Homo sapiens: one gene and its partners. The protein of the gene in region 3 interacts with the protein of the main gene of each other region in a biochemical or structural test. Each region holds a gene or a part of one and is shown on either strand. Other genes may lie near its edges.

What was found.
Region 1: the proteins of MAPT (region 3) and PLCG1 interact in a test that uses a peptide from one of them, tested with the Homo sapiens proteins (one study listed by BioGRID).
Region 2: the proteins of MAPT (region 3) and SIRT1 form a complex in vitro, tested with the Homo sapiens proteins (one study listed by BioGRID).
Region 4: of the proteins of MAPT (region 3) and CAPN1, one has a biochemical effect on the other in vitro, tested with the Homo sapiens proteins (one study listed by BioGRID).
Region 5: of the proteins of MAPT (region 3) and CHEK2, one has a biochemical effect on the other in vitro, tested with the Homo sapiens proteins (one study listed by BioGRID).
Region 6: the proteins of MAPT (region 3) and PACSIN1 form a complex in vitro, tested with the Homo sapiens proteins (one study listed by BioGRID).
Region 7: the proteins of MAPT (region 3) and MAP2 form a complex in vitro, tested with the Homo sapiens proteins (one study listed by BioGRID).

The regions. Positions count from the first base shown.
Region 1 is NC_000020.11:41,140,543-41,144,042, forward strand, and holds part of PLCG1 (1-phosphatidylinositol 4,5-bisphosphate phosphodiesterase gamma-1), read left to right. Parts: intron 1-3,500. UniProt on the Homo sapiens protein: Mediates the production of the second messenger molecules diacylglycerol (DAG) and inositol 1,4,5-trisphosphate (IP3). Plays an important role in the regulation of intracellular signaling cascades.
Region 2 is NC_000010.11:67,912,156-67,915,655, reverse strand, and holds part of SIRT1 (NAD-dependent protein deacetylase sirtuin-1), read right to left. Parts: intron 3,183-3,500; coding exon 2,625-3,182; intron 1-2,624. UniProt on the Homo sapiens protein: NAD-dependent protein deacetylase that links transcriptional regulation directly to intracellular energetics and participates in the coordination of several separated cellular functions such as cell cycle, response to DNA damage, metabolism, apoptosis and autophagy.
Region 3 is NC_000017.11:45,901,054-45,904,553, forward strand, and holds part of MAPT (microtubule-associated protein tau), read left to right. Parts: intron 1-3,500. UniProt on the Homo sapiens protein: Promotes microtubule assembly and stability, and might be involved in the establishment and maintenance of neuronal polarity.
Region 4 is NC_000011.10:65,209,217-65,212,506, reverse strand, and holds the end of CAPN1 (calpain-1 catalytic subunit), read right to left. Parts: intron 3,185-3,290; coding exon 3,120-3,184; intron 2,659-3,119; coding exon 2,590-2,658; intron 2,490-2,589; coding exon 2,411-2,489; intron 2,172-2,410; coding exon 2,055-2,171; intron 1,694-2,054; coding exon 1,635-1,693; intron 1,248-1,634; coding exon 1,221-1,247; 3' UTR 501-1,220; downstream 1-500. UniProt on the Homo sapiens protein: Calcium-regulated non-lysosomal thiol-protease which catalyzes limited proteolysis of substrates involved in cytoskeletal remodeling and signal transduction. Proteolytically cleaves CTBP1 at 'Asn-375', 'Gly-387' and 'His-409'.
Region 5 is NC_000022.11:28,728,321-28,731,820, forward strand, and holds part of CHEK2 (serine/threonine-protein kinase Chk2), read right to left. Parts: intron 2,229-3,500; coding exon of another isoform or gene 2,100-2,228; intron 1-2,099. UniProt on the Homo sapiens protein: Serine/threonine-protein kinase which is required for checkpoint-mediated cell cycle arrest, activation of DNA repair and apoptosis in response to the presence of DNA double-strand breaks.
Region 6 is NC_000006.12:34,525,076-34,528,575, reverse strand, and holds part of PACSIN1 (protein kinase C and casein kinase substrate in neurons protein 1), read right to left. Parts: intron 2,334-3,500; 5' UTR 2,271-2,333; coding exon 2,208-2,270; intron 1,245-2,207; coding exon 1,088-1,244; intron 1-1,087. UniProt on the Homo sapiens protein: Plays a role in the reorganization of the microtubule cytoskeleton via its interaction with MAPT; this decreases microtubule stability and inhibits MAPT-induced microtubule polymerization.
Region 7 is NC_000002.12:209,686,047-209,689,546, reverse strand, and holds part of MAP2 (microtubule-associated protein 2), read right to left. Parts: intron 1-3,500. UniProt on the Homo sapiens protein: The exact function of MAP2 is unknown but MAPs may stabilize the microtubules against depolymerization. They also seem to have a stiffening effect on microtubules.

The DNA of each region.
Region 1 (3,500 bases), on a different chromosome or scaffold from region 3:
GTGGTTTAAGGAGCACTCATACTGATATGTAAGACCTTCTTCTGCCCTGACTCTGTGCCCTCTCTTGTCAGCAGTTGTGAAATGGAGCTGACACCTCCTGATTTCTAGGGTGGTCATTTGGCTCAAAAGCGGGGTGGGGAAGTGCTTAGGTGTTGACAAGTTTGGTTGTCCTGGTGGTATGACAGGAACCAGGTTGGTGTTTGGCCTTTTATGTTGCAGATACTGACATAAATGAATAAAATGCAGTTATGTAGAGTTCCAGCTGAGTGCTATTGAGACCTTTCGTCCCATTTTACAGATGAGCAAATGGAAATGGAGAATCGTTTGTGCCCAAGGTGTTGTGTCAGTGTGTGCCAGGGCCTCAGCTGGGGCCAGCTCACTAGTCAGAGGCTGACTAGCAACCCCAAGCCCATGTTCCCTGTGGTCCACGTGGCTCCTCTGTGAGACACCTTTGTGCTCAGACCATGCATTACAGGGCAAAGACCACTTTGGCTTTTGTATCCCAAGACAGCCTCAGCCTCTCTAGGCTCTGGCTCCACACTTTTTCTTCTGGTGTTTTCTGAGTTGAGATGGTTCAGACTCGTGTTTAATGAGGTTGTCCATTTGAGGGTCTTTGTGGGCCCAGTAAACACTGGTGTAGACACTGTGGAGGTACTCTGAATACTGGCTGAGCATGTCCATGGGGACTTCTGAGGCCCCAGGCTTCTGTCTTTGGCTGATCCTTCACTAGATACTTTTCTAGATGCCAGGCCCTCTGAGGTGAAGGAGTATGGGTGCTTGCTTTTAGGGAAATGAAAACAGGCAATGACAATTGTGAGCAGTACCTTTGATGAAGAGGGTGAGGGTGGCGGAAGAAAACAGCTAACTGCCTTGATGAGGCAGGCGGGCTCAGAAGGGAGGTAGTAGTGGAACCAGCTGGCTGGGGCTTGACCCCTGTGGCTGGGGAGCAGACCACACCAGGAGGCCTGCTCCGAGGGCTAGGCCCACAGCACGGGAGAGGGCAAGGCCCAGGCCGGTGTCATCAAGGGTTTTCTTTGTACTGGCTGTTACTCCCAGTGGGAGAGGGGCAGGAGCACATGTCCGGATCTCCAGAGCTAGCCATCCCTGCCTGTGTATTTCCTGTCTGATGTAGTTTTTTCCAAGGGAAGTCAGACCTTTTAGTGTTTCCTCAGCACCCCAGGCTTGCCCCGATGTGTGGGTTTCCAGGCCCCCCCGCCCAGCTGGGATCCTCTGTTTCCTGTGAACCTAGGAAAAGGGCCTGCTTCACAGATAACTGGAGGAGCTGAGCACACCCAGTCCTGGGACCCACAACACCTCCAGCTTCTCTCCAGACTCTTGTGTGTGTGTGTACACAGATGCACAGGATTCAGTTGGAGTTTAGAGATCTTGGCTACCAGCTTTGCTCTGGGTAGCTTCTTGGAATGAGGCACATTTATTAATATTTGCAATAAGTATTATTATACCTCCCCATTTGCCCAGTGCTAGGCACCAAGGATTCAAAAGTTTATTGAGACATGGTTTGTGCCATTGATGAACTCTTGGAAAAGACAGATGTAGAGGCATATGATTATAACCCTGTGTGTTACATACCATAATATAAAGGCCTCTACCAAGAACTGTGAGGAGCTCTGCCAGGAAGGCATTAAAGGAGAGGTGACCTTTGAGGTAGGCCTTGAATTACTGAGGCACCTGTCTGTGCCGAGGCTAAGGAACTGGGAATCACTCTGTGCAGGGGTAGGGAACAGATATGGTGTGGTAGAGAGGAAGCTGGGACTGGTTGGAGACAGCTATAGCCCTAGTGTGCCATGTCCAGCAGATTACACTCAGTCCTGGAGGCGACGGGAGTCAGCGGAGGCTGTTGTGGGACTGACTTGCCTCTGCCTGGGAGACCACAGTGGCAGTGGTTTGTCAGGCAGGTGTTGGGGAGGGAGGCCAGTGAGCTCCTACGGTTTGCACAGTTTGCAGGAGAGAGCTGCTGAGGGCCCAGACAAGACCTTCTTGCTGAGGCAGGGTGGGGATGCCATGGTGGTAGATGGGAGAAGGGCTGGGTCTTGAGGGGTGAGACAGAGCTTAGTAGTTAAGCATTTGGGCCCTAGACTCTGCTTGAATTAAAATCCTGTTGTGCAGCTTACTTGCTCTGTGACCTTAAAGCATATGACTACCTCTCTGGGCTGCTTATCTGTAAAAAGGATAGTATTAAATGGCATTTATTTTATAAGGTTTTTGTGAGGATTTGATGAGAACCTGTATAAAGTGCTTAGCACCTGTATAAAGTGCTTAGCATGGAGTGTGGCACAGTGTAAGTGCTTACTACGTAGGATCCCTGACAGGACAGAGATGAGGATTAAGTTCTCAGGAGGACCTGGTGGGGAGGAGTTCGAATGCACCTGCTGTCCTAAGGGGCTGGTGCCTGGCCACCAAGCCCTTTGATTCAGAGGCAAGGAGGCCCGCCCATCCTCTCTTGCAGCTCTCAGCAGTCCCTCTATTGTCAGGGCTCTTTCCCACTGCTGGTTTTGCAGGGAGACAGGGCAGTTGGCTGGAAGCAGCTGCTTTGGGTGGTAACCCCTTCTGTAGAGTGAAGGTATGATATTGTCCTATTTCTAAGTGCCTAGCCCAGGACGCTATCTGGAGAGATCTTGTCTTTGAGGAAGTGCTCTAATGCCACAGCCTCGATGTGGTAGGGCCTGCCTCTGCTGTCACTGTTCTGTGTCAGTCTCCGTTAACTCACAGCATCTCTTCTTACTCTGTGCCTTTTCCTGTGGGATGTGGCTTCAAGGAGACCACAGATGATAAGTTGGAGGAAGGGAGTGAGGCCTGAGATTGCAAAGGTGTGATATTAGGAGACTGATTTTTCCCCCTTTCCACTTGCTTTGTTAGAACTAGAGAAGTCACTGCAGACTGTGAGGAGAGTCCTAGGAGAGATGGGTGTGGGATAGGAGGATGGGAATGTTCTGGTGCCCCTTGTAGAGTGCCTTGTTGAGAGGAGCATGGGAACAGTGCGTCCTTGGAGGGAATCTCTGAGAGCAGCATGTTTACAGGTGGCAAGACTCAAGGTGGAGCCACGGGTGAGGAGTGGCTTCAGGCTACCATTGACCAGATAGTCCCACCTTGCTGGTAATTGAGCTGAAGTGCCTGGAGATTTGTGGCTAGAGCTGGTCAGATTTGGGTTCAGGTCTCAGCTCTTACTGTGACCTTGGGCAGATTACTTTTCCCTGTCTGAAATTGATCTTTAGCTGTAAAAGTAATTTCTCCTCACAGAGCTGTATATTAATAATAAGGGAGATTATATATAAGAGTAAGAGATTTTATGTGAAAACTACCCAGCACAACATTTGTCACTTAGTGGCCACTTAACAGTATTCATTTCCTTTACTCTCACCTTTGTTAACCACAGAGCTCCAATCTTTTCCACCACTAAGCTCGGCCACAAGTGGCTGCTCCAACAACCTGGGCTAGGAGTCTGTTTCCTACTTGCTTTCTGTGTTCCTTCCCTGAGTCTG
Region 2 (3,500 bases), on a different chromosome or scaffold from region 3:
TTTGTCAATAATGTAGTCACCACAAATTCATAGTGTACTCTGTAGACACTGTGAATCTACAGTATCACCTGTGAACCTAAATTTACATTCACCCGAGATCTCAGGCCCCAAGACCCACCTACTGCTTCAGAATGTGTGTGTATATACACATACAGTCTAAGACGCTTTTGAAAACTCCTCTAAGATGTAATGTGAATCCATGAATACCAATGAAGTTCTTTCTACAGCACACCAAATCAATCCTAGCTTGGCCATTTGGGGTTTAAGTGAAAGAGTAGGATCCCTAAAAACTGATGGAAAAGTTTTCTATCCTTGAATTCACAGTATGTCCCTAACTTAACATCTCTTCACACATAATAGATGTAGTATTTATTGTACCGTATCCCAGACGAATTCTCAAAAGCCTGGTTACCACACTGGTAGGTGGCCTATCTCAAGTTCTCTCCAAAGTGGCTCTCGAACTTTTTCATACTGCATCATGACCCAGTTCTCACCCTGACTACAACCTGTGTGACAACTCTGACCTGAATCCCTAAAATTTCACAGTCCACTACAAATCACTGTGAAAACCACTTATTTCCCTCTATTACAACAGACACATAGTACTCATGAGTTTCCCAAGACACCACAGGCAGGGCACAGTGGCTTACACCTGTAATCCCAGCACTTTGGGAGGCCAAGGCTGGCAGACTGCTTGAGCCCAGGAGTTTGGTATCAGCCTGGGCAATGTGGCAAGACCTTGTTTCTACAAAAACTAAAAAAAAAAAAAAAAAAAATAGCTGAGCATGAGGGCATGCGCCTGTGGTCTCAGCTACAGCTACTCTGGAGAGTGAGGCAGGAGAATCGCTTGAACCCGGGAGGCGGAGGTTGCCGTGAACCGAGATCACACCATTGTACTTCAGCCTGGACAACAAGAGCAAAACTCCGTCTCAAAAAATAAATAAATTTAAAAAAAAATGACTGTTCCAGGTTAACTCTGTTTCCTGGGCAAAGAGATTGTCCGTTTGACACATCTGTCAAAATGACATTCAAGAAAAGTTCCCAGTGCAAGTCTTAGTGCATAGGTAGACTTTGTATACGCTAGAGACAACTGTGTATCTAAGTCAGTAGCAATTTTTCTACTTTCTGACTTCTGCCACGATTTGCAAACGTAAGCATCCCTCTATGCTTTTTCTAGTTTCCCCTGTGAACACGTCTGCTCTTTTTAAATCCCTACTTATTGTTAAATATTTTGCTCCTTAGAAAGCCTTCTGTAATCTAATCTCCAAGTAGAATCTACCTTTTGGGGCTGGGCGCCGTGGCTCACGCCTGTAATTCCAGCACTTTGGGAGGCCGAGGTGGATGGATCATGGGGTCAGGAGTTTGAGACCAGCCTGACCAACATGGCGAAACCCCGTCTCTACTAAAAATACAAGAATCAGCCGAGCAAGGTGGCGCATGCCTGTAATTTCAGCTACTCAGAAGGCTGAGGCAGGAGAATCTCTTGAACCTGGGACGCAGAGGTTGCAGTGAGCTGAGATCGTGCCACTGCACTCCAGCCTGGGCGACAGAGTGAGACTCCGTCACAAAAAAAAAAAAAAAAAAAAAAAAAAAAAATCTACCTTTTGTGTGATGTTTTGTTCAAAACAATAATAAAGTACTTTGTTCTTCAGCAGCACCTATACCAAAGTATTAATGAGTATCACTCACATTTATAATTATACACAACATTAATCACTGTGTCTCCATAACTTACCACAGTGCCTAATATGAAAAAGGCCAAAGGTTTATTCAACTGAACTAAAATGTATTTACAGCAAATGACTGGAATACTCAAATACAGTTGTCTAAAATTTGTCAGTTTTCGCCAAGTATGGTAAATGGAATGAGACTTAAAGTTCTAAGTTATATAAGACTGTTATAGCTAAGTTACAGTGGTTTTCTTTTTTTTAACATAAGTTAGGAATTTCCACCATACAGACTACTTGGACTTAAAACATCGGCTTCCAAAGAGTAGAAAGTGATTTCACATGTCAGTTAACACTTATTGATAAAGACTATGCATGTTCTAAACAGGGTAGAAACTATTCCTATATTCAGTGGAGAAGAATCACGCGTGTTTTTTCTAAGTCCTCAGAGAAAACAAAGATGTGTTCTACATCTGAGACAACACCGCATAGTAGTTAAGGGGGCAGGCTCTAAGCATAAATAGACTGGATTTTAATCTGGTTCTTCCACTTCTTAGTAGTTACTGTGCATGAGGTATTTAACCTCTATGGTCCTGAGTTTTCCCACCTGAAGAAGAGTAATAGTTCCTACCTCAGATTAAAATCAGGTAACATATGTAAAGCAGCTGACCTACAGTAAGCACTCAAATCTGTCATCATTTCTGCCAGCTAATAACCCATTCTTATTTTTCCATCCCCTAGAGAAACACAACATACAGAGCACTATTAAACACTTCCTTCTCCATATCATGTTAAGATACCAGAAGATTTACCTTTCTGATTACGAACTGTACAGTTTCTCTAAACAGAATCAACTACATAAAGCTACCCTATCGATTAACCTGCCGAAATAGCTAATTTTTTGGAAATACTGTTATGACATTTATACTTTCAAAATGGTCCGACTGCCTTTCTTACCATCAAGCCGCCTACTAATCTGCTCCTTTGCCACTCTATTAGGCCAGCATTTTCTCACTGTTCCAGCCACTGAAGTTCTTTCATTTTTCTCCCCAGTACTAGAACCAACATTCTTCAAATCCGGATTTTCCATCTGTTCAGCAATACTTTCAACATTCCTAGAAGTTTGTACTTCCTGTGGTTTTTCTTCCATACAACCTTTTGATTCAGACACATCTAAATCATCATTACTCTTAGCTGCTTGGTCTAAAAGTGTGACAATCACTGAAGAATCTGGTGGTGAAGTTCTTTCTGGTGAACTTGAGTCTTCTGAAACATGAAGAGGTGTGGGTGGCAACTCTGACAAATAAGCCAATTCTTTTTGTGTTCGTGGAGGTTTTTCAGTAATTTCTGAAAGCTTTACAGGGTTACAGCAAAGTTTGGCATATTCACCACCTAACCTATGACACAATTCATTAATTATGACATCACAGTCTCCAAGAAGCTCTACATCAAAATGCAGATGAGGCAAAGGTTCTCTATTAATTAATATCTGAGGCACTTCATGGGGTATGGAACCTAAAATAGGGTGAAAAATAAGAGTTAGAAAAAGGGAGGAGGAAGTAAGCTAATAAAACCACAACAGATACATTATGCAAAAATCCAACAAGGGCTTGAGCTCCAAATTCCCAAAAAAGACCCATGCACTAAATACTTAACCAAGCCATTACATTTCATCAAGCAAGCAGATGGGCAGTTAAGTGTCTTTTATAAAACGCTCAAGTTCTGCTCCTATCACCTGGTTACCCCTGAGCAATCTTCCCAGACTTTCCCACTCTGAACCTCAAATTTCCTTGTCTGCAGAATGGGGATGATAATAGTACTTCTCCACAAGAC
Region 3 (3,500 bases):
GAAAAGTCGGCAACTACCCAGCTCCCCTGCACCAAACTGGGCAGAAGTGGATCCTCTGAAAATTGCACACACCCATGTTTAAATGTACACACAGAACTCTTGCCACAGGCAAGCGGAGATTTGTCATCTGCTGTCCCTGCCTCATCTTCTTCCTGAAATCCACTCCATGCCAGGAATAAACTGCATGCTCTCCACCAGCCCAAACTGACCTGCCTTCCCGCCAGCCATCCCGGGCAGGGTGACCTGGCTTAGTACATCGGGTTCAGAGATCTTTCCAGTTTACTCGTTGAATAAAAAGTGAGGGCTGATCGAGAAAGTAATGGCAGTCAGGGAAGGCGAAGGAGGTAAAGAAGAGATTTTACAAATGAAGTAATTCAACAGAGTGCTGACATTGGTAAACTGGCAAACAGATTTCAGGGTGGTTGGTTGAGAGTAGAGTAGAAAAGGATTAAATAAAGCAAACTTGTGGTGTACTGAATCTTAGGAATTCCATGTATCCAATAAGTATAGTCATTTATGAATTAATAAATTCGGCCTAAGAAGCCTTCTTATCGCTTAAATCAAGACTAAGTAACAATATATCAGTTTTAAAAAGTCATTATATCAGAAAATCATTTAAATGATACACATAGATTTCCAAGATTTTACTTTAACCGAAACTATATAAATGTGAATTTGTTCACCCATCTTTTGACACAGGGCTCAGGTCTTCTCTTGGTGTCTGGATCAGCCAGTTGAAATTTCTTGTCTGTTTTGCCTATGCCACATTAATAATGCACTGTCTGGGTCCTCCGATTTCAGTTTGGATTTTGGGTTTACATTGTGGAGTCATCTGAATGCAGAATCCTTCAGGGATTTTACTTTTTTTTTTTTTTTTCATGGTCTTTACCATCCCATTTGATAGTAAATATTACTCACCTTTATGAAGTCTTTCCAAAACATTCAACTAAATTTTCTTAAAATCATTGAATGATTTGAAGAGCTTATTCCTCAGCACTTTTACTCCATCAGCTTGCACCTTATTTTTTAATCTTTTTTTGAGACGGAGTCTCGCTCTATCGCCCAGGCTTAAGTGCAATGGCGCGATCTTGGCTCACTGCGACCTCCACCTCCTGGGTTCAAGCAATTCCGCCTCAGCCTCCGCCGTAGCCGGGACTACAGGTACACACCATAATGCTCGGCTGATTTTTGTATTTTTGTAGGGATGGGGTATCGCCATGTTGGCCAGGCTGGTCCCGAACTTCTGACCCAAGTGATCCACCCACCTCGGCCTCCCAAAGTGCTGGGATTACAGGTGTGAGCCACCGCGCCCGGCCAGCTTGCACCTTATTTAGGATATGTGATTATTATAGCAAGTCTGGTGTACATACAAGATTTTGAATGGGCACAGATGACCTTTAGTAAGTGCTTGGCTGTGATAAGAGGCAGTCCTGACTGCAGATCAGGCTGTGTGGACCCCAGCCTTGCATGTTTACAGACCTTCATGTCTTATTCTTACAGGGTATCAGAAGAACACCTACTGGGGAAACTTATAAATTAGTAAAAGGTGGGCATTCTCCCCGCCCATCTTCTGTCTGTCTGCCAGGACTAGCACAGCACTTTGAAGTCATTCACATAGAATCCCAACTTAAGAGGGTAAAATCCTCCTCAACAGACTGAAAATAAGTTTAAATTCCCTTTGCTATATTAACTCCCCTGAGGAAAGAGTCTTAGATCAATGTCCAACACTAAAAACAGTTTTAAATCAGCAAGTGAGAATTAAATCTGAAGCAATTGATAATAATGTTTCATTCATTCCTCTCCTTTGGCCCCGTCCACCCTACTGCTAAATCCAGGCATCAAAGAGAAGAGGGACATAATTATCTCTAGTCCCAGCTGCTGGTTTTCCTTCCAGCCTATGGCCCAGTTTTCTGTTTTACTGAGAAGGCTGGTGATGTTATCTTGGGATCTAAGTCTGCAGTTTCACCACAAAAAGTCCAGGGATGCACTTTCATGCTTGTGTCCTCCTCCCTGGGATAGCAAGGATATTAGAAGACCCCTGGCTCTGTAATTGCTTGTCATGTGCTCTACAGACGCCACAGAATGCCAAGAACGAAGTGCTGGGAAGGACAAATTCATGGAACCGTGGGACGGTGCTCCTCCCCCAGCGTAAAGGACAGCTCCTCCTCCTGAATTGGAGCCAGCGTTCTAAATCATGTGTCAACAGAGTTGTCCTGGATCGGATCCAGTTCTGCCATTGATTTGCAGGTCATTTCAGTGGTACCTGTTTCCAGTTGTTCTTAATTGAACAGTGGCACCAAACTATTGTCTTGCCTCATCCCCCTCCCATGGCCTGTCCCCCAAAAAGAGACTTCTTGGGTAATTAATCAGGGCAACATCAGGCAGTCTGGGCGCGGTGGCTCACGCCTGTAATCCCAGCACTTTGGGAGGCCGAGGCGGGCAGATCATGAGGTTAGGAGATTGAGACCATCCTGGCTTTGTGAAACCCCGTCTCTACTAAAAATACAAAAAATTAGCCGGGCGTGGTGGCGGGCGCCTGTAGTCCCAGCTACTCGAGAGGCTGAGGCAGGGGAATGGCGTGAACCCGGGAGGTGGAGGTTGCAGTGAGCCGAGATCGCACCACTGCACTCTAGCCTGGGCGACAGAGCTAGACTTCTTCTCAAAAAAAAAAAAAAAAAGGAATCTCTTTGGTTTTATATATATTTTTTTTATATATATAATATATATTAAAATATAATATATATATTTATATAATATAATATATAAATATATTATATATTATATATTTTATATATTATATATTATATATATTATATATTATATATTTATATATTTATATATTATATATATTTATATATTATATATTTATATATATTATATATTTATATATAATATATATTATATATTATATATTATATATTATATATTATATATTTATATATATTATATATTATATATATTATATATTATATATTTATATATTATATATTTATATATATTATATATTATATATTATATATTTATATATTATATATTTATATATTATATATATTTATATATATTATATATTATATATTATATATGTATATATTATATATGTTATATATTATATATATTTATATATATAATATATTGTATATATTATATATCTAATATATTATATATATTATATATATTATATATTATAATATATATTATATATTATATATTATATATATTTTTATATATATAATATGTATAATATATAATATATATAAAAACATATATAATATATATTATATATTATATATATATTATATATATTATATATATTAAATATATTTTATATATATTATATATATATACACATATATATATATAAATGAGGCCAGGCTCGGTGGCTCACACTTGTAATCCCAGCACTGTGGGAGGATCACTTGAAGCCAGGAGTCTGAGACTAGCCTGGGCAACAAAACAAGATCCTGTCTCTACAAAAGGAAACTGTAAAAATTAGCTGGGCA
Region 4 (3,290 bases), on a different chromosome or scaffold from region 3:
ACTCTTATCTCTGGTAAGAAAATCCCAGATCCCAGCAGGCCCTGGAGCGGCTTATGTAAGTGCAGGTGTCTGGGTCACAGGGGCTCCCCACAGAGGGACCTGAAGGCGGCTCTGTGCTCGGGGGAGCTCTCTGGGGGGCCGGGTGTGTGCTAAGTAGAGGTTTGAATTTCAGCCAGAGCCTCACCTCAACGGGCCGAAGTGTGCAAGAAAGGTAGGGGTCAGGCCTCCTGGGCGGCGGGGAGGGCATGTAGGATCAGCAGAGCCATGTGGGACCTCAGCTGTGTGGCCCTGTCCCTGCAGCTAGGGCCCCTCCTTCCCAACCTCCCAGGGCCAGGGGTGGTCTTGCCCAGATACCCAGTACTCCAGTAGGGGTTCAAGCTTCAAGGTCAAGGGGAAGGAGATGGAGGGGTTGGAGGGGAGGGGTGAGCTGAGGCCACGAGCTGCCCCCATGGGCCGGGGCCTGCAGGTGCCCTCCAGGCAGTAGGCTGGGGAGAAACACATCACAGACAGATGTGGGGCCTTTTATTATTTGGGGTTCCTCTATATGGAACACGGGACCTCCCCACCCCAAGCCTAGTGCCTCTGGCACCCCCATAACCAGTACACAAGTCCCTGAAGAGTCCCCTTTAAAATCACTAATATAAAAAAGGAGCGAAGGAGGGAAGGCCGACCGCCCACAGGCTGGGCAGCTCCTGGTCGGCAGCAGGGCCAGGGAAGGACAGAGGGGGCGTTGGCTTCGGCGCAGGAAGGCACAGGCGTTCCCAGCCCCGGGGCCTCCCCGAGCCGGGAGGCGGCTCCACACGCCTGGACTGCAGACTGTGTCGAGCTAGTGGTTATAGTTTATAGTCTGCAGGCAAGGCCAGGCCGGTGGTGCTGAGTGGGTGGCCTCTGAAGTGGGGAGAGGGGACACATCAGGATGCTGGGGAAACCCGGGGCTGTCCCGAGGCAGGAACAAGCGAAAGCTGCCTTCCTGGCTTGGCAATGGGTGGGGCCCAGGGAGTCCATCCCGAGCCCATGGCTGGCACAGGCAGGGGCCACACAGTTCTGCCCGGAGCAGATGAACGATGGTGGCTGGGAGGAGAGGGGACAGGAGGACGAGGCTGCCTCTCTGCTCCAAGGAAGGCACTTGCAGCTGGGGTGGCCTGGTGTGGTGTGGTAGGAGGCGAGGCTTGGCAGACGAGGAGGGAGGGGAGCACGGCAAGGGGGACCGAGTCCCTGCCTCATGCAAACATGGTCAGCTGCAACCACTGCGGGAGAACAGGCAGGTCAGCTGGGGCCGCAGAAATGGCTCCCTGGCTTCTTCCCCACCCAAACCCCAGGTCCAGCCCCCAACTCCACGTCTCAGGAGCCACCTCAGGAACCTCATGGAGGGGTTACTTTCTTACCTCCTCCACCCCTGGGAAACCAGAGTGCTGCTCCCATAGGGGCCTCCAAGGGCCTGGACCTCCCCTCCTGCTCCTTTCCCAGAATCCAGACACCCCCACCCCAGCCTTTCAGGATTCAGGTGGCCCGGGCTTCAGGGTTGGCTCTGAGGCCCAGGCTCATTTCCAGGAAAGGACAGGGAACACTGGCCAGATAAGAAAATTCGATCGCCTGGAACTCTTCCCCAACCATGGGCCCAGGGAGGTTCCCACCTTAAACAAGTCAAAGGTCACAACTCCATCCAGATCTGTGTCCAGAGTTTTGAAAAATCCTGTGTGTTCAAGAAAAGGTGATACAGGGCTGAAAACTCAGTGGGATATTCACGCAGGGCCAGGCCTGGCCCCCTTCCTGCCTGGTCCCTCTCTACCTCCCCACAGTACCGCAAGCTGACACCCCTTGAAGCTGGGAAGCTTCACCCCTTCCTGCTGCCTGAGAAGCCACTGTCAACTCCCTCCCTCCCCGACTCTCCTGGCACTCAGCCAGGGCCCCCCAAACCCAGACCCAGGCCTCTCTGGCACACACCCACAGCACTGGCCTGTATCTGCTAATTCACCCATCTGTCATTCCCCCCAGCTCCTGGGGGACGCGTTTGGGACGGAGCTGGAGGGTGGGAGGCAGTTGGGGACACTCACGGAACATGGTCTCTAGCCGCACCAGGCAGCAAACGAAATTGTCAAAGTCGACCGCCAGGTCGGGCTCCGAGTAGCGGGTGATGATGAGCTCGTACAGCTTCTTGTTGAGCTTGAAGCCTGGTCCAGGAGAGTGAGTGAAGGTCAGTGAGGCGCAGCCCCTGCCCAACAGGATGGGGGAGGGGTTGGGTCCCCAGGAGGGGGCTGGGGCTAGGCAGGGTGCTAGTAACCGTGGGGAAAAGGACAAGATGGCTGTTACCATGTCACCACTAGCACCCCAGGGACAAGGGCCTGGGGCATAGGAGCAGTGGGGCTACCTGTCCTGGGCCCCACAGGTGCCGTCAGCCTTGGAGTCTCACCTGCCGACTCAATGGCCATCCGCATCTCGTAGGCACTCATGCTGCCCGACTTGTCCAGGTCAAACTTCCGGAAGATGGACTGAGGTGGCGGCAGAGGGTGAGGGCCAGGCTGAGTCACCCGGCCCTTCCCACCTGCCCGGCCCGCACCTGCATGACTGAGGTGAGTGGGGACAACCTACCAGGTAATTCCGGATGCGGTTCCACAGGATGTTGAACTCCACCAGGCCCAGCTTCCCATTGCCATCACGCTGGGTGGCCGTTAAGAAGGAAATTCCATCACTTAGACCAGTCATGGGAGAGTGGGCAACTGTGCAGAAGGGGAGATGGCCGCCGAGCCGGCAAGTCGACTTGGGGCTGGGTGAGGAGAAGCAGCAAAAGCCATGTACAGTCAGCCCACAGCCGGGCTTGCCTTATTCTCTGAGCTGGGCTGCAGTGGAGTGGGCTGGGGAGGGGTCAGAAATAGCACCAGCCTCAGGGTCAATGGGGACCCAGGTCTTGCTCCACCTTTCACTTGACACAGGTCTGTGCCTCAGTTTCTCCCTCCCAACCAACAGGAAGACGTCCAGGGAGACATCTGAGCATGGGGCACTGTGTGTCCACACTCCGCATGGCTCTGTCCTGTTCTCTGTGCTGTCCTGGGACAGTTCTCCCAGCACCGATACCTCCACCCAAAACCCCACTCAGGAGACAAAAGCAAACGGAAGGATACATCCATGAGGTTCACCATGCTGCGGCACGACTCTAGGCTGAAGCCCTTGGTCCGCAGGTCTTTGTCTGCAAGAAAAACCAATTCCAACATCTCCACCTAGTGAGCTTCCTGCACCTGCCCCTGCTGGGAGCACTGGGTGGGGCAGAGTCAAGGACGCACAAATCCTGACGA
Region 5 (3,500 bases), on a different chromosome or scaffold from region 3:
TATTAGATGACATAGGTGAAATGGACAAACTCCTAGAAAGATACAAACTACCAAAACTAACACAAGAAGAAACAGAAAATCTGAATATACCCATAAGAAGTGAAAAGACTGAATGATAATCCTAGCACATTGGGAGGCCAAGGCAGGCGGATTGCTTGACTTCAGGAGATTGAGACCAGCCTGTGCAACATGGCAAAATCCCGTCTCTACTAAAAACAAAACAAAAAAAAATTTAGCCAGGTGTGGTGGCGCGCCCCTGTAGTCCCAGCTACTCTGGAGGCTGAGGCACAAGAATCGTTTGAACCTGTGAGGCAGAGGCTGCAGTGAGCCAATATTGTGCCACTGCACTCCAGCCTGGGTGACAGAGAGAGAGACTCTGTCTCCAAAAAAACAAAACAAAACAAAAGACTGAATGAGTAATCAAAATATCCCTACAAAGAAAAGTGCAGTCCCAGATTGCCTCACTTTAGCTTGAGCAACATAGGGACACCCCATCTCTATCAAAATAAAAAAATTAGCCACACATGGTGGCACATGCCTGAGGTCCCAGCTACTCAGGAGGCTGAGGTAGGAGTTGAGCCTGGGAGGTCAAGCCTGCAGTGAAACGTGATAGTGGGTAACACTCCAGCGTGGGTAAGAGTGAGACCCTGTCTCAAAAAAAAGAAAAAAGAAACACACGGCTGGCTTCATTTTAAATTCTATCAAATATGTAAAGAACTAATACCAATTATTCTCAAACTTTTCGAAGAAATTCGGAACGGAACACTGTCAACTCATCTATGAGGCCAGCATACCAAAACCAGACAGAGACATCACAGTAAAACCACAAACCAATATCCCTTGTGAATATAGATATAAAAATCCTCAACAAAACAGTAGCAAACTAAATCCAGCAACACATAAAAAAGATTACAAATGACCAAACAAGAATTAACCCAGGACGCCAGGCGCGGTGGCTCACATCTGTATTCCCAGCACTTTGGGAGGCCGAGGCGGGCGATCACGAGGTCAGGAGATGGAGACCATCCTGGCTAACACGGTGAAACCCCGTCTCTACTAAAAATACAAAAAATTAGCCGGGCGAGGTGGCGGGCGCCTGTAGTCCCAGCTACTCGGGAGGCTGAGGCAAGAGAATGGCGTGAACCCCAGGGGGCAGACCCTGCAGTGAGCCGAGATCACGCCACTGCACTCCAGCCTGGGCGACAGCGAGACTCCATCTCAAAAAAAAAAAAAAAAAAAAAAAAAGAATTAACCCAGGAAAGCTTGGTTGGTTTAACATCTGAAAACCAATTAATATAATACACGATAACAATAGAATATAGGAAAATAGACACAGAAAAAAATTTTGGCAAAATGCAACACCCTTTTATAACAAAAAATACTCAGAAAACTAGGAATAGGAGTAAACTCCTTCAACCTAATAAAGAGCTTTTATTTTATTTATTATCTATTTATTTTTAATTTAGAGGCAAAGTCTTGCTCTGTGGCCTGCAATCATAGCTTGCTGCAGTCTCCAACTCGTGGCCTTAAGCACTTCTCCTGCCATAGGCTCCCAAAGCACTGAGATTATAGGGTGAAAGAGTCAGAGCAACCAGCCAGAAAGCATTTTTTTTTTCTTTTGAGTCAGAGTCTCACTCTATCACCAACTAGCTGGAACTACAGGCTCCTGCCACCACGCCCGGCTAATTTTGTTTTTGTATTTTTAGTAGAGACGGGGTTTCACCATGTTGGCCAGGATGGTCTCGATCTCCTGACCTTGTGATCCGCCCACCTCAGCCTCCCAAAGTGCTTGGATTACAGGCATGAGCCACTGCACCCACCCCAGAAAGAACTTTTATGAAACATCCACAGCTTAGTCTTCAGATATCAGAGGAGAAAGGAGAGAGGAAGAGAGAAGAGGAGAGAGAAGAGGAAAGAAAAGAGGAGAGGAGAGGAGGGGAGGGGAGGAAAGGAAAGCGGAAGGGAAAGGAAAGGAAAGCGGAAGGGAAAGGAAAGCAGAAGGGAAAGGAAAGGAAAGGAAAAAAGAAAGGGGAAAGGGGAAAGGAAAAGGAAAAGGGAAAGAGAAAGGGAAAGGGAAAGACCCACAGCTAACATCATACTTAGACTGCAAACTGGCCGGGGATGGTGCCTCACACCTCTTATCCCAGCACTTTGGGAGGCTGAGGCAGGAGGATCAGATGACAGCAGGAGTTCAAGATCAGATTGGGTAACATGGCCAGACTCTGTCTCTACAAAAAATAAAAATAAAAAAGTTAGGCCAGCCACGGTGGCTCATGCCTGTAATCCCAGCACTTTGGGAGGCCGAGGCGGGTGGATCACCCGAGGGCAGGAGTTCGAGACCAGCCTGGCCAACATGGTGAAACCCCATCTCTACTAAAAATACAAAAATTAGCCAGGCATGGTGGCATAAGCATGTAATCCCAGCTACTTGGGAGGCTGAGGCAGGAGAATCGCTTGAAACCGGGAGGAGGAGGTTGCGGTGAGCCGAGATCATGACATTGCAATCCAGCCTGGTGACAGAGCAAGGCTCCGTCTCAATAAATAAATAAATAAAACTTAAAATGAATAAAGGACCTTAATTAAACATAAGAGCTAAAACTAGGCCAGGCACTGTGGCTTATGCCTGTAATCCTAACACTTTGGGAAGCCAAGATGGATGTATTGCTTGAGCTCAGGAGTTTGAGACCAGACTGCAACATGATGAAACCCCATCTCCACCAAGAATACAAAAAGTTAGCTGGGAGTGGTGGTGCACATCTGTGGTCCCAGCTACTCAGGAGGCTGAAGTGGGAGAATTGCTTGAGCCTGGGAGGCAGAGGCTGAAGTGAGCTGAGATTGTGCCACTGCACTCCAGCCTGGATGACAGAGTGAGATCCTGTCTCAAAATAAACAAACAAACAAACAAACAAAAATTTAAAAAAAGGAATTAAAACTGTAAAATTTTAAAAGAAAACATAGGTATAAATAATTAACAAATAATAATAATAAACAGCCTCGGCCAGACGTGGTGGCTCGCGCCTGTAATCCCACCACTTTGGGAGGCCAAGGCGGGCAGATCACCTGAGGTCAGGAGTTTGAAACCAGCCTGGCCAATATGATGACAACCCGTCCCTACTAAAAAATACAGAACTTAGCCACGGTGGTGGGCACCTGTAATCCCAGCTACTCAGGTGGCTGAGGCAGGAGAATGGCTTCAACCCAGGAGATTGAGGTTGCAGTGAGCCAAGATCGTACCACTGCACTCCAGCCTGGGTGACAGAGTGAGACTCCGTCTCAAATAATAATAATAATAATAATGATAAACAGTCTCTATTTATTCAGCACCTACTTTATGCTGGTCATCCTATCAGGATCTTTGTTTACTTGTCTTTTTTTGTTTTTCCTTTTTGTGGAGAATGGGGTCTCGCTATATTGCCCAGCAGGTCTCAAACTCCTGGGTTCAAGCTATCCTCCCACCTCTGCTGCTCTAAGAGCTGGGATTACAGTTGAGAGCCCCTGCA
Region 6 (3,500 bases), on a different chromosome or scaffold from region 3:
CCTTCTCTGAGGCTTTCCCTTTCCTCTCATAGCAACAGAAATGCCCTCCTCTGCTCTACGTGGCCCCATCCTCTAGGGCCCACATCAGCCACCACCTCCAGGAAGCCTTCCCTGACTGCTCTGCCCTCCTGCCATGGCCAGCAGCCCTCGCTGCATTCTTCTCACAGTATCTGCGGCCATACCTCCCTCCTCCTTATCTCTCTTGTCAGCATGTGAGCCCCATGGAATGGGGTCGGAGGGGGGCAGCCTGGACCCTGTGAGCTCTGACAAGCCCAGCACAGCGCCAAGCACACAGTAGGTGCTCCAGGAATGTTAGCTGAAGCTTGTGACAGATGCCAAGAGGCCACTGGGGACCAGTCATTCCACACTGACTTGTTGTTTGTGTACTGGCACCAGCTCTGTGCAGGGCACTGTGTTAGGTGGTGCAGGCCCAGCCCCTGCTCTCATGGGGTTTAGAGTATACTGCAAGAGAATAACATGAACAAGTATATGTAAACCGCAACTTCAAACTGTTCTAGATTAAAGGAACCTGAAGACACAATGCATAGAGGCAATGTGCGACTGCACTAGATCCTGGACTAGCAAGCGCAATTGCCATGGTAAATGTGCGTATGGGTCGTATTACATGTCCCAAATTTGATAGCTGAACTCTGGTTACTTAAGCAAATGCTCTTGTTCTTAGGAGATACATGAAGAATTTAGGGGTAAACAGGGATAATGGCTCCAGCTTACTCTCAAATGGTTCAGAAAATATGCATATCAATAAACAGTCAGTGAGAAAACGTGGGGCCAGTGAGCCTGGGGGAAGGGTATGTAGGAATTCTCTGTGCTACTGTTGCAACTTTCACAAAGTTTGAATTATTTCAAGATAAAAAGTGTTTTTTTTTTTTTAATTCAACCTAAAATTGTACAAAATAGAGATGAACAGGTAGGCCTGGTTTGATCTAGGAGGGAACAGCGCCTGAAAATGTCCTGTGTCTGGTAGATGGAGGGCATGGTGCATGCAAGTAGCCGGGGCTCCTAGGACCCAGACCTAGGGGGCTCGTGACGGCCTGGGGGCGCGCACGATGTGAGCCTGGGGGAGCACCTTTCTCGATGAGCTGGCGCCAACGCTTGGCCCAGTCGGTGAGCTGCTGCCCGTACGCCTTCTCGATCTTGGCGCGCTCCTGCACGCAGTTCATCAGGTCGTTGCATAGACGGTGGCCGTCATCGATGCGCTTCACGGTCCGCTTGTAGTTCCCCACCTGGCGGCCAAGCAGCGAGCACCACTCCCGCGGGTTCCCAGCGTCCCCAGCCCCGCCCGCCGCATCCAGCACGGCCACGCCCACTGTCTTCCGCCCCGCCTCCCCGCTTACGGCCTCGCCGTCCCCGCCCCCGCCCCCGCCCCCCGCCCCGCGGCGCAGCGGCAACACCCCAGGGAAACTAACTTTCGGAGGCTCCAGCACCCTGCCTCAGGCCCCGCCGTCTACACGCACCCTCACCCCAATTTAAACATGATTTCCTTGCTGCCACAAAATGCAGAAGGATTTTTAGAATTTGGACTTGGGCTGGAATGAATTATTCATTTTGTTTTTGCGAGTTAAATCTATTATATTTATATAGAGTCATATAAGCGTTGAGTTGAGCTGCAGCTTCTTGACATAATATTATGTTTTGTCGACATCTCATTAAACGCTTATTAATTTAGGTTTGGCAGTTTTCGTCTTGGGTTTCCGGAGCCAATAGCAATTTTTTTTCTCCAGGTCTCAAATATTTCCGAAGGTTCTGAAAATGCTGGCTTCTGGCTGTGCCTCCCGCTCTGCGGCCCCGTGGGGCTCTGGGAGCTCACTCCCTCTCTCTGTGTCCGGCGCTCCACCCCTGCCCACCTCAGGATGGGGGGCGAGCGAGGGAAATAGGAACAGCTGAGAAAGGCTGTGCTGTACCTGCCTGATGGAAGTGCCACAGAGTCACAAAGGGCCTGTTCCCACATTGTGAAATGCCACAGGCTCTCTCTGGGGGCAGCTGTGGGGAGAGAGGAGCTCCTGGCTCAGTGGGCAGTGCTCTTAGCCACTTCATGGCTACCGCTGCCTGTTGGACACCCAGGGCTTTGGAGGGGCCTGGGGGACTGCGGAGTGGGGCCTGAGGTCATGGGGTGAGTGATAAGGGAGCCTGGCCTCCAAACAGCCAGGCTGTCTGGTCCCCGAACCTGGGGATCATGAGAGCCTCACCTCCCAGAAGCTGTCGGTGGTCTCCTCTGGCGCCAGTGAGGCCTCATCGTAGGAGCTGGACATGGTGTAGCCGCAGGGGGATGGACAAGTGCGGAGCTGCGGTTAGCAGGCTCGGCTGCTCATGCACTGGGAGGGCAGGAGAGAGATCCCTGGAGATGAGGGAAGGGCCTTCCACCCTTTGCCCCATTCCAGGCCTGGGTCCCCAAACCGATGGGACCCAGGGAGGCTTGCATTAGGATGCCATCTTCCTGTCCAGAGACTAACTCACCAGACTTAGGTAACCCCAAGAGTCGCCCTGTAGCACCCTCATGCCCAACTCCCCATCCCTCCTCCTTCCCCCTCCCTGGAATCCATCCTCTATCCAGTATGAGCACCTCCGTTCAGAAGCCAGCCCCAGCCCCCAGAGCTGGCTCTCTCTCCTGGACTGTTGGAGCCCAGGCTCAGCGCCTCCTCAGTTATCTGAGCCCCGGGACCCTGTAAATGCCCTTCTGTCTGCCCTTGCTCCCAACCTCAGCAGCCCCCATTAGCTTCTTACAAGTCTCCTGAGAGTCCCAAATGTGTGGTGTCCTGGCCCACAGGTCACACCACCGAGATCTATGGGAGCGTCTGGGGTGGCTGTGTCTGCCCTGGATCTGTCGGCAGGCATCAGGGTTATCCAATCTAGGCCGTGCGCTGCCCCAGGGCCGAGGTGGGTACTCCCCTCCTCCCTTCCCCCAGCCAGGCCTCACTGTTACCCCAGGCAAGAATGGCTCAGTAGTCAGGAGCCAGGACTCAGAGGGCCAAGGGCCTGGTTTTCAAAGAGGCAGCAGAGTCCAGGCTGCGCCTGGCCCTGATACAAGCTGCCAGCCTCTAGCTGGATCCCGGCACCAGGGGACACCTCCCTGCTTCTGCACTGCAGTCCCAGGACTGTGAACCCTGACAGTGTGGATGCTCAGGGAAGGCTGGCCTCTGTAAGATTCAGCCCAACCTGGGGGTCCAGCAGTTGGCTCTCAGGCTCAGGGCAGGGGCAATAACACGTAAGAATGGTTGGTGGAGGATGTCCCTCCCCCTAGGGCTCCCCATCTGTCCAGGGCCTGGGGCTCTTTCCCAGTAATAACCCAGTATTGCCTCTTGCACCCCTCAGGCATCTAAACATATTTTGTTCCCTCCCTTTTAGAAGAACCACAGACAGACTTTCCCATAAACTCACGCACAGTGCGGGTGGGTGAGAGGGAGGACGGCTGGATTTCATCAAGGGACAAAGAAATGAGTCTGAATTTTTCTTTTCTTAACTTGGCACTTTTCACTTATAAA
Region 7 (3,500 bases), on a different chromosome or scaffold from region 3:
TTACACTTGAAATGTCAGTAAAAATAAGTAAATTCCATTTGGTCACTTAAGGAATTAGAGAGAAATATATGAGCTGTTTTATAGTTTTGTAAATGGAAGATTCTTACAAAATTCTTATGAAATAATTGTGCATTGTTTAAACGGCCCTGAGGGAAAGACTACAGATAAAAAGAAAAGGAATTTTCTTTTATTTTGTTTTTTAGAAATATTAATATCCTCAGAGAGAAACAGAGAGAGAAAAAAAAATCTACATTATCAATCTCTTCACATTTAGCACTCATTTTTAGTTTTGTAATTTAATTATGGCATTTTAAGTAGCATTTTAAAAATTTAAATTCTAACTTGTTATTTTAAGAAAATTTTTATAATGCCATAGATTTTGATTACAGTTAAAAGAATTTTAATATAACTGCATTATAATGTTACCTTTTTGGATAAAGTCTAATCAAGTTAATTTACATGTTTTCAAATCCATGTAGCTTTTTAGCTTTTCATTTTCTCATTTAGTATAAATCATATTTATTTCCACTACAATTGTTCCTAATTTAAAAACTCACATATTTTAGAAATTTAGTTTAGAAGAACTTAGTTTCACTTAATAGGGGTTATATTTCTTTATCAGAGAACCTGAGCTATTGGTGTTCTGTTTTCAAAAGGGTCCTTGAAGACGTTTATTATGATGACCATAGTTGGTGAGCTGTAAGCTTATTCCTTATTGCTTTAGAACTATCTGCTTTCATATTAAATATTGTCCCTTTTGGAAATAAACTCTTCGCCTAAGCAAAAATATATTTAGCTGTACCTTTTTTTTCTTTACCAAAACTACCTAGTTAGAATGAGACACATTGCAGCCCATCACCTACTTATTTTATCCTCACGATAACCAATTATACACTTGAGTCTCCCAGCTTTATAAGGCTAGAATGACAAAGGCTTTGAATCATTTCCTTCATTTTAGTCCAGCTCTACTGATGTGAGCCAAGATTTAGTCACCTGGGGAAGCCTCTGTAGTTTCTGTAGATGATTACATGATATGGGGAAATAAATTGTTTCCATAACATTTATTCTGCTCTAAACAGATTCTTCATTCTTTCTCTTTTAAAGATCTATCATATTAATATAGCACTAAAAAGAAAGCTAATGCTATTTAAAGATGCTATTTAAAGATGCTATTTAATAGTAATATTATGTGTCTAAGGAGGAAAAAAATTATATTCAGAGTCATCTTCTTTGGTTTGGGTAAAGAATATGTTCTTCCCCAGCTGATTATTGGCAGGGAGCAGAAAGAAGCCATACTTTAATGGAATATTTTTTTGCTTCTCTCTCTCTTTCTCTCTCTCTTTTTCTTCCTTCTCAGAAGCAATGATACAGAAAAAGGAAGTGCTCACATGCCTCTAGTAAGGCTTCTTTTATATAAATTGTTAAGGCATTTGGATAGATTCAACTTATATAGGAACTTCACTTTCATGCAGAGAAAACAGGCTCCTGCCCCTCCCACCCTGTATTAAGGCACACTTAACATGATGTAGGTGGTCAAAGCTGTAGGCCGGGGCGGAGGAGCAAAAGGGGACCATGCTTGGTTCACCTTTCTCCTGGCCTAAGTGGGCCTCTGCACTCTGCGCTGTGACACTGGGGAGCACACTAGAGGTGGTCCGTTCTGAGCTGAACAAAGGATGCTCATAGTACTCCTCATCGGAATTGTAAGGGTCATCATCAGGCACAGACACTGAGATGGAGGGGGCTAGGAGTCCACGCCTCTCCCCGCTGGTGGCAGGTTCATGGCTGGGGAACCTGTGTAGAGGACCCACTTGATCCTCAGCCCCTTCATCTACAAACAGACACACAGGAAGAAACTGCAGGGAGAACTGGACAACACAGACACAAGATCAGACGGACGAAACAAACACCTACACAAGGGCAGGAAGGGCCACAGAAGCAGCACAGCAGGATGAAGGGAAATTAGCAAGATCAAGCTGATGGAGGATGGGAGACAGTGAATGTTTCATGCCTCAGTAACTGCTGAATTCCACCTATCCCTTAAGCAAGTTTGCCATTGATCTAAGTGAACCAAAAGCATTGACAGCCCTGCGGCAAAATAAAAATCATCTGTACATTCCTCTCAAACAAGTCAGAATAACCAAGGAACGTTGGAATAGAAACAAAGCATTACAAAACAAATGCATTCTTTGGAGGAAATTATTTCATGAAGGTTAACTCTACTCATGCTTAGATCAATATGTTTATAAGTTTAAAAAGAAGAAAGTTATTAGGATTTAACGCCTGTAAGATTATGAAGAAAACAGTCCTGTTTAAAACATAGTCTTAATTATCTAGGATGCACAAGTAGTGTTTTGGTTAATTTAATTCTAGTTAATAACTTTAACCAGAAAGTCATTTTTAATTTCAATCCTGTTAAGAAAAATCTACAATGCATTATGCCTCTTTCCTGCCTTAATAAGAAATGCGCAGTCAGCATAGCTCTTTCTTTGGATGCTAAGGCTAATGTAGTACCTAGAGGCATCATTTTAAACCAGGTTCTGATTTGCAGGACACTAAAAGTATACTGTTTTAAGAAAGCCTCTAATATTATAAACTTGTTTTCTTATGTTTTGTTTTCCTTCTGAAAGCTTAGCAGAGATACAATTAGCTAAAAATTTCTGCAGAGTCGGCTGCAGATTCATCAAGACTTTATTCCATGTAGTTTCATTTGTACCACTGGCTCTTGGCTGTTTTTCATGTTTCAAACCTCTTATTGCATATTTCTTATTGAAATGCTAAAGTAACTACTCTCATTTCTGTTCTTTCCTGTATCTTGCCTAGGAAATTTGCATTATTTAAACATATCTCCTTAAATATACAACTGTAGATCAGTCTGCTTAGCATTTGGATTCTCGTATAACTCAGTGAGCACTTGGCTTCTGATGTGGTGCAGACGTTACATCTCAGGCCTATGTGGTGGTTGCTAAATTTGCTAATCACTATTTATTTACTTATATTGAGATATCAATTTAAAATTTCATGACTCTCAATAATAAGAACAAAATCTATAGTATCTATCTGTACAGTTTTTATTTATATCAGATTTTAAGAAGACAAAATTATAGCATTAATTTGCAAATATACTGTATTTTTAGGACAGTAACTTATTTTTGGCAACCAAGTGCTGACAACTAGAAATAAGTCTGAAATCATGAGGATACTAAAATAACATTTTGTAGAGAGAATACATTTAATCTTTCAAGCACATTATTTACTGATTGTTCCATGGAAGATGTTTCTGGATGGATGCTCAGAACTTTCTCAGCCACAATGCTTTTTATATCATGGGATAGCAGAAGCCTAAAATAACGTTTGATATTCTTAGTTCAACTCGGCACGATTTCGCAGCTGAGCAGATAATTGTCCAAGATCTGGCCTACAACACTGACTGAATCATAGCCCTGGCTTGTCACATGTCCTAGCCATTCATATTTCTCTCAGTGGATCTCTGGGGCTGTAAA